Regions from separate parts of the Homo sapiens genome. Here region 1 is linked to region 2. A link means that fine-mapping ties the variant in region 2 to the expression of a gene that starts in the linked region. Tissue or cell type: cerebellum. Region 2 holds a variant in brackets; the other region holds the start of a gene. All regions are shown on one strand. Distances are from middle to middle.

Region 1 (8,000 bases), 280 kb after region 2:
GGGCCAGGTAAAGTGAGTCAAAAATTCTGAAGCATGGAGGAAGGCAGAAAGCAAGGTGGCACTGTGATCTAGCAGTACTTCTCAAACTTTTAAGTGTACATAAATCACTTGGGGAGCTGCTAAACTGCAAATTCTGATTCAGTAGGTCTGATTCAGGGGCCTAAGATTCTGTATTTCTAAGTAGCTCATAGGTAGTGCTGATGCTGCTGGTCCATGGAGCAGCCAGGCTGCAGAGAACTGGTGCATCGGAGGCCCTTGAGTGCTGCAGACCATGATGGGGGATAGGAATTCTCTCCTGCAGAGCCAACTCTGCATTTTTTTGGCATTGAGGAAGGGTGCTCTCATTTTGACCAAAGAAACTGGAAGGTAGGACATTAGCAAGATCCTTGTGATATTCTTGATCTTTGTAACAACCTGCTATAGCTAGCTGCAAGAGCATTTTTAATTAGACCAAATTATCTAGTTTGACTGTCCATAGAAATCAAAGCCCCAGCTGAAATATCTGTTCATTTTGCTAGTGTAGAGATGGCTTGTGTGCTGTGATTTTTAAGATGTTAAACACTGCCTGTGGGCATATTTTATGGAGAAATAAACACACAGCCCAATGAGATGTATAGCGTAGTTTTAATATATTGTATATTCCCTTATTTATGGGGAAAATAAACACATAAGCCAATAAGCTGTGTATTACTACTTTAATATATTGAATTTATTTCATACCTATATATTTTATGAGGGAAAATAAGATACATGACATTATTATAACACATCTAATTGTTCTATATTTATTTATGAGAGAAATAAGTGCAATTTAACATGATGTAAGATTAATGCACGAGATGAATTCTATATTAAGACAGTTTAAGGGATTAAGTTCCAGCTAACTAAGAGGTGTGTACTTCCCACACTGAGGGACCCATTTTAAAATATGCAAAGGGCCTGTCTAGTCCTCTGTGTCACAACCTATGTTGGCTCCTGGCTTATCCTGACAATTGCTGCCTCTGGGTGACTGGTACTCTAAATCCCGGTCCTGTTGGTCCAGGGGAAAGTCTGGAGGCCCAGGAAATAAACTGCTTTTTGAGAAGGGCAGCATCTGCCGGGGAGATAGCCCCGTAGTGTCTGTTTCTGAGCGGGAGAAATATTAAAGAAACCTAAGGAGGATGGATGGCTTTCCGGGGACCTTTAAACCTCCACCTTCCCAGAACAAACCAGGAGGCAGATGGGGGAGATCGATCCTTGCTTCCCGCTTACCAGGTTTACAAGGAACCAGGCAGGGTGTGGTGGGGGATAGACAGGACATGGTGTTGATACGTGAAATGAAGTTGTTGGTCAAGACTGGTGGGTCTGCATTCAGAGAAAGCTCTGGCCTGGCTTCAAATCCCACAGCGAAGAATCAAAAGTCAGACTGGATGAGGCACACCCAGGCCCGCAGACCCGCCGCTCTCCTTCCCTTCCCACATCCACCCGGACTCTCCTTCCATCTCGCGTCCTCAGCGTCCGTTGGGCTCCACTTTAAAAATAAAAAAATCAAACTAACTAAAACGAAGGTGGGACCCCCCAGGCTCCCCTTCTTCCCTGGCCTCTGGAAAATCCAGCTGGGAGGACGCAGGGGCGGGGGCAGATCCCGGCTGGGCCGGCGCCTCCTGCAGCGGCTGTCATGGCGGCCACAGCTTCTTCCCTCGCCCCCCCCCCGGCCCGCCGCCCGGCCCCAGCGCCATTTTGAGCATCGTCTTTGCTTCCCTGTCTCCCTCCCGCTCTCCTCGCTCCTCCTTCTCTCCCCGCAGGTCCAGCGCCTCGCGACGCTGCCGGGCCACCCTGGGCTTCTCGCCCGGCTGCTGCTTGGATGGTCTCCCAAACCCCAGCAGCCCGAGTCCATGGGTGTCCCGGCAGCGCCACATTTCTCAGCTGGCCTCTTTTCTTGCCCACTGGGAAGCCAGTTACCATCCCTGGGTGCGGGACCCTGCTTCCCGAGAAAATCCCCGACCCCACTCCACTCCTTGGAGAGCCACCTACAGCTCCCAAAGAGGCCCGGCTCAAGCCCCAGGCCTCGCGTCCCTAGGCTTCTTGAGTTCGGAAAAAGGTCCTACACCGGCTTCGGTCATAAGAAGCAAAAGCCTAGGAAGCCCTTGGATTGTTCCCAATTCCAGTAAACTTCTGCCCCCGCCACGACCCTGAAGACTGTCCACAGGCTTCCTCTCCTTTCACCCTCCTCTGTTCGCTGTACACTCTCTCCCTCGACCTGCCCATCTCTATTTCCAAGCAGAGGCCCCAGAACCACCCGCTCAGGACCAAAGACCCTCTGCTGAGGGGCGGGGAGGTGACCCAGCTTCCTGCAAACTCCCGACTTTTGCCGGAGCCGTGGGCGAAGCGGCCATCAATCGGGTCACCTTTGTACCACCCGGACTTCGCCGGCCCTGGAGGCTTTGCTGCCATATGGGCCGCTGAACCTAATCAACTTCGCACAGGTCCTGGAGGGGTGAGGACCGGCCTTGGGGCCGCGGGGAAAGAGTTTAGGTCCCAACACAAACACTCGTTTTGGTATTATAAAGACATTTATTTAATCTATGAAAATAATGTACAATAAATACTTTCCCCTTTTCCTATTATTAAAGAATTTTAATAAATAATCTACAGTCTAAAACATAAAAAAGAGGAAAATAGGTCCCTCTAGTTATTTTTAAGAAAGTCCCCCTAGAGTTTAATTATTCCTGAGATTTCATTGGAAGGAGTCTACCAAACGGAATTTTTCTGTGTGAATTTTAAAAGATAACCGAGTGCCCAATATTTTAGAAGAAGAAGAAAGGGAGTGGATTAAACGCTAATTCAGTAATACCTGAATTTTAGCAAAACACATAAGTCTATGCGACTGAGGGTGGGAGAGGCTCGATTTTTCCAGTAGACGGCCAAGGAGCGCGGGGGTCGAAAGGACCGGGAGGAGGAAACAGGTTAGGGAAACTGCAGGTCGATGGCACAGAGCGTACTGGTGAAAAAATCCAGCTCTTCCTCGGAAAAAGGGACCGGGCTGTCGAGAGAACCCTGTAGGCTAGGGGAGAGGCCTCCGGATAGCTGGAGACAGGAGTCGGCCGCGAAGAAGTTGAGGTCGGGAAGGAAAGGTGAATCCTGGCGCCCCGAGAAGACGTCTTCTGGCAATGGCCCGGGCTCCAGCCCGCCGGCCCCGCGCAGCGCGCAGCCGGGACTCGACGCGCCTGCGCCCTCTAAGCGAACGGCTAAAGGCCGGGGGTCCGCGCTTAAGGCCCCCGGCACCACCTCCGGCGGGTGACAGCAGGCTTCCCACGCCGCCCGCGAGGCGGAGGGGCCGCCCGGGCTGGCCGCGGGTTCCTCGGCAGGGTCGCAGATGTCCTCCAGGGCTCCCGGGCAGGCAGGCTCCCCATCCGGCGGCTCTCGGTGCTGCGTCTGCCGCTTGTGCTTCATGCGCCGGTTCTGAAACCAGACTTTGACCTGCCTTTCGGTGAGGTCCAGCAAGGCCGCGATCTCGACGCGGCGTGGCCGGCACAGGTACTTATTAAAGTGGAATTCCTTCTCCAGTTCCAGCAGCTGCGTGTTGGTGTAAGCCGTGCGCAGCCTGCGCGCCCCGCCGCCACCAGCCTCCGGCAGTCCCAGGCCATCTGCAGGGAAAACAGGCTCGGCGTCATAGCGGGCCGTGTACTCAGCCCAACCTCAGTTCGGACTACCCCATCCTCCAAAACCAGTATCACCTCTCCCCTTCCTCGCCACCCCACCCCCGCCCCCACCCCAAAGCCGCTCGCTTTACTGCTTTTGGGTTTTCTTCTCTCCCTCTCTAGTCTACAGCCCCGGCCCGGGTCAGGGCAAAGCATTCAGAGCCGCCCACGGGCCACGCAGGGGGCGGAGAGCGGCTCCCTTCGGCGCCGGAACCTCAGATCCCCCTCCCAAGCCCTCCCAGTGGACCCCTCAATTCGGAACTTTCCAACTCAACCGGAGCGAGGGTCAGAAAGATTGTTCTTCACCCCTCTTCCTCCCTAGCTCTGAATTCTTCCTCTTCTCCTAGAGTTGGGGCAGAAAGGACCGAATCTTTTCTGCTTCTAGGGTCTATCCCAGCAACAACATACTCATTCCCCTACACAGATACGGGTGAAAACCTCAATCAAATCATTTTCTTCTAGCAGAAAAAAAGGCGTTTCCCCAACCAGCTTCCAAAATCAGCCATAGGGAGAGAAAGAGAGAGAGAGACAGAAAAAAAAAAAGACGCTGTTAGCGGCCAGGCCTGAACCCCAGTGGGATATTCTACTTCCCCATCCCAGGAATGGAGGGGGTAAGGAACCCCAACAGGCTCGCCACCATTTTTTTTAAACCTCCTTCCACTGCTTTTTCTCCCCCTCTTCTAGCTGCCCCTCACCCCACCCCCACCACGCTTACCGACCTGCAGGCGATCCGACCCCGGAGGCCGGAACGGCGGAGGCGGCCGGAGAAGGAGACGTGGCGGATTGGCTGGGTTTCTTGGCGGATTTCTTCTCTTTCATCCAAGGGAACTCGGGGGCCGGGGGGGCAGCGGGGAGTGGCGGCGGCGGTGGCGGCGGCAGAGCAGGCCCATCTTCGGCTCGCTTTTGGCTCCTGGGTCTCTGAAGGGTGGAGGCGCCGGGCTGGAGGCTGGGGAAGGTTTGCTCGAAAGGAGGAGGAGGAGGAATTAATGTCGACTCCTTGATTGATGAAGTTTGAAATGTCTCCAAGACAGCGGGGAAGGAAGTCAGACACTCGGCGAGCGACGGCTGGCTGTTTATAAACCCAATCTCCCTCTCAAATTCAAAATTCATGGCTTTCAATGGTGGGGGAGGGGGCTGCTGGGGGGGGCGTCAGGAGGGAGGATCGGAAGGGACCCCCCTCCTGCACCCCCCCCGATTTATGTAATGGAGCGATTTTGGGAGGGGGAGATTTCGGTCTCTCTTTTTTTTAATTTTGGGCCTTTATAATTGTATATTGCTGATAAATACAAGCGTATGGGGACTCTCTCTATTAAACCCAGGACTCCAGCGAAATTACAGGGAATTCGTGGTCACGGGACCGGCCTCCGCCAATCGCTCGTCTGGGCCTGGTGGAAAACAGAGAGCATTATTTGGTTTAATTGATTCAAAAACACCAGAGGACCACGACCAGGACACCATGAGCCCCCATTCCTACACCAGTGCCTCACATGCTCTCTCCCCAATGCCTCCGTTTCTCCAGAAAAGCTAGAGGAACCTTTTCCTCATCCCCTTCGAAGGTTAGAAGGTTTCAGAAGCCTGGAAAAGAAGAGACTCTAAGGGAGAAACCTTCCTCTTTTCCAAGTATTTTAATAGAGTAAATTAAGGCCTTCTTTACGTGGCCAGCAGCATCCCCTTCCCTTCTCCCCTTCCCCAGGAAAAGATGAGTGAGGATCTCCGCGTTGGAGGAAGAGGGAGTCGAAAGAGGCTTCCACTCTTTGAAAAAGGTCAGTATTAAGGTGAAAATAAGAAAGAGATTTACAATCATCACACCACTATCCCTGTTACCCTCCAAAAACAACAGTTAAATCTTGGGAAATGGACAGGAACTCCCAGGCAGACACATAGGAGTGAGATGGAGCATAAGGGGCATTTTTGGGCCTCTGGCCTCCATCGCTGTATGGTCTGGGTTCTCTTCTCTGCCCAGTGTTTGCAGCACTGCCTCTGCCCCTTATGTACCCCTGCTTTCCTCACTTTCAGGCTTCCATGCTTCTCTGTGACATCCCCCAAAAACAGGCAGAGTCTAAGATGTGCATGTACCCACTCAAGCCTCAAGCTTGTATCTGTATCCATATCCAGGGACATGAACAAGAACTGAGGTAGCCATTGGTTTAACTTAGAGCACTCTCAAAGTTCAGATCAGCGTTATGTGTGTGCATGAGTGTGGTGGGGAGATTTTCCCCTAGGACAAAGAGACTTTCCCTCCCATTTTTGCCATTGTGCTAGTTAAAAAAGAAAAAAGAAAAAAAAAAAAAAAAGAATCCCTGACAAGGAAGAATTCCCTGAAGATGGTAGGGGTGGAAATAATGACCACTGAGATGATATTCCATTTCTGGCTGCTGGGGGAAAATGTTTTTAAAATTTATTTTATTTTGAGGAGACCAAGATAGTCTGAAGTTTAGAGTGTTGTAATTTACTATGGGGAGAGGGCACAAGACTCTGAGCCCCAAGCAATTGGTGGGAAACTAGGCCTCAAAGCAGAAAATGAAAAGTCGATCTGGGGGAAGATTTTTAAATAAGTGGGTCAGACGGATGGAGAGGAGATGAGGCGATCAATCTTAGCCCCCTGACAGCTCCCTCCGATTGCATCAAAGAATTTGGCTCTTTGGGAAAGCAGAGCGAACAGCCAAAATTTCACATCCCTTAAAAAGGCCTGGGGGTGGGGGTGGGGGTGCAAAAGAGAAGGGTGATTCTGGGAGAGCTGGGAAACAGATGGGAAATGGGGACAGAGGGAAAGCGCTAAGTTGGGTGGAAAGTTTGCCTGGAGAACTCCCATGGCTTTGGCCTCCCCTCCCCCTCCTCTCTCTCTGCTGCCCAGCCAGGAGGAGAAGGCTGGTTAGCAGAGAAATGGCAACTGAGCCCGGAGCTGGAACTAGAAACTTTCTGTCAGTGTAACATCTGCGTGAGTACTTAAAAAGAAGGACAGAGAAGTCTGAGTAGAAGCATGAGGGTGGGGGAGAGGAGGATGGAGAAAGGGGAGTTGGAGGTGGGGGCTGCAGGGACCGAGGAGGCATGCTCTGGAGGGCTCAGAACAGAGAGAGCTGCTCTGACCTGGGCAAAGTGGCCAGCGACAGTAGTGTGCAACTAGGCTCCAAAGAAAACAATTTTTGCCATTTAGAGGTGTGGATGGGGGTGGGCATAGAATAATCCAAATAGTAGCTGTCTGGAAGTCATGCAGGGAGGCCTGAGAGTGGGTTCTCCCTCTGGCCACCCCCTTGAACACCTCTGAAAGTTTAGCAACAGCTTCTGTAGCTGGCTGAAGGATCCAGAGCTTATCTCAGGCAACTCGGGCAGACTGTCCCTGCAGGAAATACAGCTCTCTCTAACCCTCACTGACAGATTTTATGGCCAGATTAGCAAACAGCGGAAAACTTGGGTGTTAAAAGGGGCCCAGAGAACCCTCCTTTTCAGAGACATCCCTCCCCCGCCCCCCTGTCCTGCTGTGAATTTAACAGCACGGATATTTTACCCACGTCTTTGGCTGCTTTAGCTGAGCGCCTGGAATCTTCCAAAGAGAAGGATAGGGAACACCAAGCCAAGTTGGTTCTTATTTTTCTTGTTTGCAATTCCAGCTTCGAGCCAAAGCTCTGTTTTTCAAACTTAAGCTAAATTCTCTTTCTTGGCCTCTTTCCTGCTAGATAAATAACAACCCAACCCAGCCCCAGAGCCAAACATGGTGCTTCATCTAGTTATATCATTCAGAAAATGTTATTCAAGGAAGAAGAGAGAAAGAGAAAGAAAGAAAAACCCTTGAGCGTTATTTGATCCCAATCAAACTTTGCACGCTCTTATGCCTTTAAATTATAGCCTGACCCAATGCTAAATTGCTTGCTGCTTGGATGAGTCCAGTTAAAATCCTACTTGGTGGTGGGGAAGGGGGAGGGCGTAGAGTTCAGGTTGCTTTTTTATTGTTATTTATTGTTGCATAAAGACTATAATTACTAACCTTGGACTGCCAGGATGCAACATAAAAATGAAAATCAGCCCTCTCTTTAAGGCAGGGCCTGGAACGATTCTCACTCCCCCAACATCACTACCACCAAATATATGCTCCTAATTAAGCAATGCGGGCACATCGCTTACAATTAGAATTATGCAGCTCTTCAGCAAGCAGCCATCGCTTCTCTTTCAACGAATTAGCTCCATATTTCAGCCGCCCTGTCTTCTCGCTCTTATCGGCTCCAGCGACTCGGCGGTGACATTTCATCTTTGACAGACCTTCTCTATTTTCACTCCAATGTGATAAAACTTTTATGGAACCACAACTAAGAAATGAAGTTTTCC
Region 2 (8,260 bases):
AAGGAATCACAGTCCAAGTTCGGCCTCAAACCAGTACATTTTAAGAGTCTCAGTAGATAGCAAAGAGATCATAAAAATGACTCACCAAAAGGCATATATTAAAATTGGACTGGGATGCATTTTTAAGAAAGCCAGAAAACTCCAAGAGCATAGCTTCAGAATAAGAACAACACATGGTTTTTTGGGGGGGAAGTTTAATAAACTGCAGTTTTGGATTACCTTAATCCATATCCTTAATCCACAAAATTCTGTCATTCACTGTTTTGGGCAATGTGACATTATATTTTATTGTAAAGTATTATAGTATATTTCTGTTTGATGAGTAAAAACTTGAACAATTAAAATAAACAATGTATATTGTAATCTCATTGCATGAAGATTTGATTTTCCTATTCTGTTGTAAATTTTAAATTTCTTATCCTGTTAAAAAGCCCATAAAACAGATTTTGTGAACATATGTTTTATGAGCCAATGCCAAAGTAAGAGTGGTAAATCCCTCAGTCACAGACATAATCTTCAGAAGTCAACACTTAATTATTCAGCTTGTAGATTTTCCATGCTTTCCTGTCCCTCCTCCTTGGTATTTCATTGCACACACACACTTCTTTTAGAAAGCAGGCAAACAAAAGAAGTAGAAGAGATGAAACTCAGACTTGAAGGTGTGGATATCTGTAACATTACTTTGAAATGTTGTCAGCAAGGAAAAAGAAGCTAAAAGATAATAAAAATTGTTATCATTTAAGAATAGCTTTCATTTCAAAACAGTATTTCATGTGCATTTTTTTTCAAATGTCTGTTTAAAAGTTTTTGCAAATTAATTGTGGTTAGGATGTTTCAAACTAACACAGTAAATAGATTTTCACCTCAAAATTGTACCTACTTAAAAACATTTAAATTTTACTTAATACTGACTTTTAGGTTGATTCTTCAGTAAACAAAGTGAGAGCTTGTCATTAACTACCAGCAGGTGGTGGTATTCACAAATAGGGTACAAGAAATACTGAAAGGGCTATGAGTATAACCAATATGTGGTTCAGATTTATGGATTATGGATTTTAAAACATTTTTAATGGAGTTGTCAGCACACTGAAACTACTTCCATTCCCATCTGTTCCATATGAATGTGGAAACTTGGAAGTCACCTTAAAATATGTGCCTGTAGAAAGTTTTGCATTAAGAACATTGGGTCTCTTTATAAAAGCAGACAAATATTTTCTATTTTTAAATATTTAAATTTTCTGTATAACAATGAGCTTCAAACATGCACAAGTATCCTGACTCTTCCAATATTTTGGGGGCCTCTAGGTTTAGAATCTGATCTATCTTCTATTCAGGGCAGACACGTATCAAGAGGGAGCACTGACTGTATACTTTAGCCAAGCTAACCTGAGCAAATGCTGAATGGTGGGCACTGTGCACACAGTTGCTATGGAGAAAATATGTCCGTTCTTGTCTCCAAAAAAAAGGTCCCAGGTTTCAGAGGATACAGAAGCAACAAGAGGCGGTGAACTCCAGTCATCGAGTCAACAGCTTCAGGGGCTTTAGGAACAGGCTGAAATTATTTGGTTTTGACCGCCAGATGACCTCCATTGCTGCCCAGTCTGATGGACAGTCGGACCATTAGTTCTTTTAACACACATTCTTTTCCTGAAACACAGACACCACTCTGCGTTTGCACAGAGCAAGAAAGGAGAGCAAACGAGAGTGTCTGAAAGGGAGAGACAGAGACGTACATTTGCAGAGAAACTTCTAAACCAGCCGCAACCCTTCTACTGTTTTAGGGCCTAGGACTAGAGGAATTCAATCCAAGCAAAGAGACATCAGCTTTTTTTTTTTTATCTAACTTAAAAATCTGACTTTAGACTACAATTAGGCAAGATTATATCTAATAAATGTCCAAAACAAAAACATGGAAATGGTTAAAATTGATTTTTTGTATTTTCTAAAGCATTTGATATCTAGCTTAAAAATCAGCAACACTACTTTATATATATATACAAAATGTATACATATATATGTTTATACATATATATATACACACACACAGAGATCAGAAATAAAGAGGTCTTACTATGTTCTACCTAATGTTAGTTCAGGCTTACTGCAAAATTGTTTTCCACTACATACTACCCAGTTCTTTGAAATCCATTTAATGAGTTTAATTCCCAGGCCACATTACTGTGGTATATGAGATTCAATGTACATTTTATTTGTTTTCTTGGTATGCATGTGTTTTGATGTGTGAATGAAAAGTAACTTTGGTCTTATTATTCTTATAAAACAAATCAGGAGCTAAGCTTTGCTTTCAGACAACCTATTAATCCAAGGCAAAACTGAAAAGCACAAAGATTGTACTCCAAAGAGACCCATAAAGATACTGAACTTTGCCAGGAAATGGGGAGGGAAAAGGGAGTAGAAAAGGAAATTTAGGTAGAGGATAAAATTTTCTATAGATGATGAATCATTCTATCTTTAAATAAAGCAATACTTAAACTTACATTTAATCAAATCTACAAAACACACACACACACACACACACACACACACACACACACCCTCCATCTCCATTTTCTTGTGGTTGTGGCTGACAGAACTGTACTTGTCCCCAGCCTCTTCTGATTTTCCTCTTGGGATAAGTGATGAGCTATGCTGCAGTCAACGAGGAAACATCTGTTTGACTTTCCGAAGCTGGCATGGGGAGCTGAAGTCTGAATCACAAATGCCACTTTCATAAACAGGTCTCCCACAGGAACCTTGCTAAAAACATGACTCTACTGGGGTGAGCCACAGCTCTGGTGAGTGATGGGGAAGGCTGCTCTCCTTTCCAGCTATTTGAAACAATATACACTTTTTATAGGATTTGTCTGTGGTGGGATTTAATGAATTCCAATCTGTTAACAGACGTACCTGAATCCAGTTTTAATTTGGGAAGTTAGTTCATACTGAAGCTCCAAAGGCTCTAAATCTGGGAATTTTTAATTAGTAAGAAAGCTATGGCTGGGTGCGGTGGCTCACACCTGTAATCCCAGCACTTTGGGAGGCTGAGGGAGGCGGATCACGAGGTCAGGAGTTCAAGACCAGCCTGGCCAACATGGTGAAACCCCATTTCTACTCAAAATACAAAAAATTAGCCCGGCATGGTAGCAGATGCCTGTAATCCCAGCTACTTGGGAGGCTGAGGCAGGAGAATCACTTGAACCTGGGAGGCGGAGGTTGCAGTGAGCTGAGACC[G/A]CACCACTGCACTCCAGCCTGGGCCTGTCTCAAAAAAAAAAAAAGCAAGCAAGCAAGCAAGCAAGCAAGCAAGCTATGACACTGTGGTGTGTGGTTACTGTGTTCAGAAAAGACACACAAAACCTCAAATTATTTTTTAAGCATATTGACGTGGTACTTAAAAATCAGCACACAGTTTTCACATTTTATTTTATTCTAGTATTGTTGTCATCAACAATGTGAATAACTCAGAACACCACTCTGGCTAGAGGTGTGTCTAACACACCCGAACTGTAACCTTTCTCTTTCCCTCCCCCCATGAAACTAGGGAGAAAACACCTTTGGGAGCTGTATCTGCCCAAAGGCAAACTCCTGTGGCAGGTGGAACAGGGAGCTGGCCATGCTCCAAATGCCTCCCCTGTTAGAATCTTCACATCTGCATGTCTGTTTAGGTTGTCCAAGTTTTCAACTTAACTTATTTTTAAAACCTCTTTTCTTTAGTTTAGTGATTTTTCTCTTTATGAAAAATGACTGCTTGCTGTTTGATTCCTCTCTTGGGATATTTACTCATTCTCTCCTGAACAGGGCTCTCATTTCCTTGTCAGCACTTGGTTTGGCTGACATCACTGTATGATTATTAACCTGTGAGTGAGCTGGAAATATTTCCGAGATAATCTAAACACACACCCACACCTACACACACCCACACACACACATACACACACACACTAGCCTAGTCTATTCAACTGAAGTATTTGGCAAAAATAATAGATTTTATAAGCTATATCAAATAGATCTTAATGTAAATTGTTAGGCTGGTGCAAACATCATCCTGCATATTTCTAGTTCAAAGGTAGAGAGCATTTGTGTCAGAAAGGAGCTCCTTTATTATTTAAAGACAGTTTCCACCTATCAGAACAGATGGATAGTTGTTGCCTGTAAAATACGAATTATACTATACATAACAATAAATACACTATTGAAACCGTTAGTTCAAGAAATCAAGGCTGTGGCTGGAAAGCAATTTAATTTTAGAAATTCTGTTTTCCTTTTCTTTTTTTCTTTTCTTACTTTCTTTTTTTTTTTTTTTGAGACAGAGTCTCACTCTGTCACCCAGGCTGGAGTGCAGTGGCGCAATCTTGACTCACTGTAAGCTCCGCCTCCCAGGTTCACGCCATTCTCCTGCCTCAGCCTCCCGAGTAGCTGGGACTACAGGCGCCTGCCACAACGCCCGGCTAATTTTTTGTATTTTTAGTAGAGACAGGGTTTCACTGTGTTGGCCAGGATGGTCTCGATCTCTTGACCTCGTGATCCACCAGCCTCGGCCTCCCAAAGTGCTGGGATTACAGGCATGAGCCACCGTGCCCGGCCCTGTTTTCCTTTTCTTATTCCTCTTTTTCTCTTTTTTGAAATTTAAAAATGATATTTCTATTTTACAATTACTAGAGAGAATTATTGGGTGAATGAAGTGGAAATGTCCAAATATACACGAATTTTCTTTCTTTCTGTGACTAGACTAACACTCAACACGAAATGCTTTCACTGCTTGAAGGAAAGCCCTCATAGAACATAGCAGATGGCAGAATTAGCACATAGAATATCATTTTATCATGAAAAAAATGTGATGCCAAGCCAATAATTATTTTCCTCAAATTTGTTTTCCACATCTTTCCCTATACTCAGGGCTCTGAATGTTCCTACAGCATTTAGGATCTTCTGATAAATTTCCAACTTTTGAATTATGAACACTAGTAAGCCTTTTTTAGCTTTAAGTGAAATTAAGACATGAAGTAGATATATAAGTTATTAGGCCTTAGAGAAAAAAAGACAAAATTAGATACTTCTCAACATACATGATTTAACTTAAACAATACCTCAATTTTACTTTGTTCTCACAATCAAAAAATAATGTTGAACAAAAGGAACAGTAGTTGGAGAATTCTTCCAAAATCAATTTTAATTAAACACACACACACACTTTAATGTTGAATATGCCTGTTTAATCAATGATTTTGGCTCTAAGGTGATACAATCAGCATTTATACTTCAAATTACCACTTGGTACTAATAGATACTCTATACACAAGTCCTTAAGGTCAACACCCAAATTATTGCCCTATATTAATCATTAATAACTTAGAAAATGATAATTTTCTAAACCCATTTTTTTAAAAGAGCAAACACACTTGCTTAGTTTAATTTGCTACTATTAAAATGATTTGTGATTAATTTAATATCAATTAATTTAATACTAGATTGCTTACAAAATTATTTACTATATTTCTGTTCTTTTCACCACTTGCTCTTAAGTATTGAGCCATGGGAGATGTTTAGGAACTCCGTTAGGAAGGGTAATTACAGAACCAAAGCAGGGGAGGACCTGACAAAATAGATACCAACAGATAAATGGAGGGAAGGGAGAGATGGAAAGGCACACCATTTCTCATGTGATTATACAGAGGTTGCTTATAGGTACCTTTACATTATTATCTTGTGTTTGTATTATGCCCATTTTACAGATGAGAAAAGCTAAAATCAGAGAACTTAAATGACTTCTCTGAGATCATAAAGGTAGTTAATGTAATAATCCAGTGTAAGGTTTGGAATGCTTTACAAAATGAATCTCATCAAATCCTCGAAAGACAGACATTACTCTTTAGAGTTTCAAAAAAAAGAAAGAAAACTTGAAGAGGCCTCATGCAATATAATAAGCCAATTATAAAAATGAGAAGAAGATGCAAAGGATATCAGTCCTGGGCAACCAAACAATCAGTAGCTAACCCTCCAAATACTGACCTGAAATAATAACATGACAAAAGACTACTTAAAAAAAAAACAAAAAACCCACACCTGTGTTACATATTGTGCTTACTAGTCAAAAGTCCTAAATGACAATTTTCTAAAACTTGAGTACAGGCAATCCTGACTTACAAACCCTTGAGTTACCACCTATAATGTGTATTCATTGCTGTCATATCTGACACAGAGCTGCTGCGGAAAATACTTGGAAGACTGAAAAGGATGAGTTGGTACGAAGTGGAGAGATTCAAGTTAATTTTTTTTTGTTTTTTTTGAGACAGTCTCACTCTGTTGCACAGGCTGGAGTGCAGTGGCGTGATCTCTGTTCACTGCAACCTCCGCCTCCTGGGTTCAAGTGATTCGCCTACCTCAGCCTCCAGAGTAGTTGGGATTACAGGCAGGTGCCACCATACCCAGCTAATTTTTGTATTTTTAGTAGAGACGGGGTCTCACCATGTTGGCCAGGCTGGTCTTGAACTCCTGATCTCAAATGATCTACCCGCCTCAGCCTCCCAAAGTGCTGGAATCGCAGGTGTGAGCCACTGTGCCCGGCCTCAAGTTAATTTTTAACCGTAATGCTATACAAACTAAAACCACAGTAAGATTTTTAAGTTACTTGATAAAACAATTCTGAAATTTACAGGAAAAATAAAGGGGTGAAAATAGCATTTTGAAATTTTGAAAGAGAAAAGTCATGACTGACACTAACGATACTTAAAACATTCTAGAGCTACATAAGTCCTAGTACTGGTACAAAAATAGATCAATAGAATAGGATAAAGAGCTCATTTTAGATGTAATATACTAATATATAATAAATAATGCACCACAAGTAGAAGAGGGTGATTGAATAAATGATTTTGAAGAGAATAGTAATTTGGAACAAGATCAATTTAGATTCTTGTCTCACACTAATCAAAATAAATTCCACCTGAATTAAAGGTAAATATACGGAAGTCAAATTATAGAAAAACCAGAAAAGAACTGAATGTTGAACAAAACTCTAGAGAAGAAAGGACATTTTAAGTTAGAAGTGATAAAAGTAAATAAATAAATTTGACCACTTTGAGAAAAAAAAACAAAAAATAACTTCTGTGTGTAACAACTATCTGTCTACACCAGGACTAGAGATCTATACTAGTCCACTAGATACACTAGAGACTGTTATCTGTCTACACCAGGACTAGAGAATGTGGCATAAGTGGGAAGAGCTTCAGGAAGCTGACCCTGAGGGACCTGTATTTCCAGGCAGAGTTAACCTGCTATAAGGTCATATTCTTGTACAAAATTATGTAACCCACATCGCCCAAATTATTGTGCTCCATCATTATTCCACCTTAAATGCCTTCATTTAGAGATTCATTCATATTTTGAGAACACAAATATGTTCTGAAGGATAGTTAGTGGAGATAACAATCACTCACAAATTGGCACAAAATTAATTAGCTTAGCTTCCTCCTACATCTAGCTGTGATAAGCTGCACTAAGTTAAAGAGAGCTTTTATCTAGTGGGGATGGAAAGTAAGTGATTTGTGAGTTTAATAAAGAATTTATTTTTTATTATTAAAAAATGAGGCCGGGTGCGGTGGCTCACGCTTGTAATCCCAGCACTTTGGGAGGCTGAGGCGGGAGGATCACCTGAGGTCGGGAGTATCACCTGAGGTCGGGAGTTCGCGACCTGCCCGACCAACATGGAGAAACCCTGTCTCTACTAAAAATACAAGATTAGCCAGGCATGGTGGCGCATGCCTGTAATCCCAGCTACTCAGGAGGCTGAGGCAGGAGTATCGCTTGAACCAGGAGGCGGAGGTTGCAGTGAGCCAAGATGGCACCACTGCACTCCAGCCTGGGCAACAAGAGCGAAACTCTGTCTCAACAAAAAGAAAACAACTTTATTATATTTTCTGCGTCCTAAAATATGAAAAACATAGTGAAATTTTAAACGATATGGAAAACATAAATAAATAAAAGTCATCAAAAATATCTCAGTATTTGTGACTTTTCTTTTGGATAACTTTTTTGCATACATGCATGTGCTCACACATACACACCTAATTTTAGCAAAATCAAGTCAGTCTTTAAAAATTTTTTAAATTAATTTAATTTTATTATTTATTTATTTTTGCGACAGAGTCTCGCTCTGTCACTGAGGCTGGAGTGCAGGGGTGGAATATCGGCTCACTGCAACCTCCACCTCCCGGGTTCAAGCGATTCTCTTGCTTCAGCCTCCTGAGTAGCTAGGATTACAGGT

What was found. PIP is the estimated chance that this variant, and not a neighbour inherited with it, causes the effect.
Region 1: HOXB-AS1 starts here. The variant in region 2 is fine-mapped to the expression of HOXB-AS1 in cerebellum (GTEx, PIP 0.93).

What each region holds. Positions count from the first base shown.
Region 1 is chr17:48,540,122-48,548,121 of GRCh38, forward strand. It overlaps HOXB-AS1 (HOXB cluster antisense RNA 1), which reads left to right and starts at 4,230. Exons shown (of 7, transcript NR_102279.1): 1 at 4,230-4,291; 2 at 5,000-5,236; 3 at 5,374-5,443. HOXB2 (homeobox B2) reads right to left here and starts at 4,988. Exons shown (of 2, transcript NM_002145.4): 1 at 4,400-4,988; 2 at 2,534-3,626. The coding sequence starts at 4,790. The coding sequence ends at 2,947. RefSeq lists a silencer at 3,114-3,403 and an enhancer at 3,211-3,856.
Region 2 is chr17:48,262,229-48,270,488 of GRCh38, forward strand. The region is part of intron 4 of SKAP1 (src kinase associated phosphoprotein 1); the gene reads right to left. Among named protein-coding and RNA genes, the nearest start is that of SKAP1-AS2, 28 kb to the right of the region's middle. The variant G/A (reference allele first, on the strand shown) is at 3,232.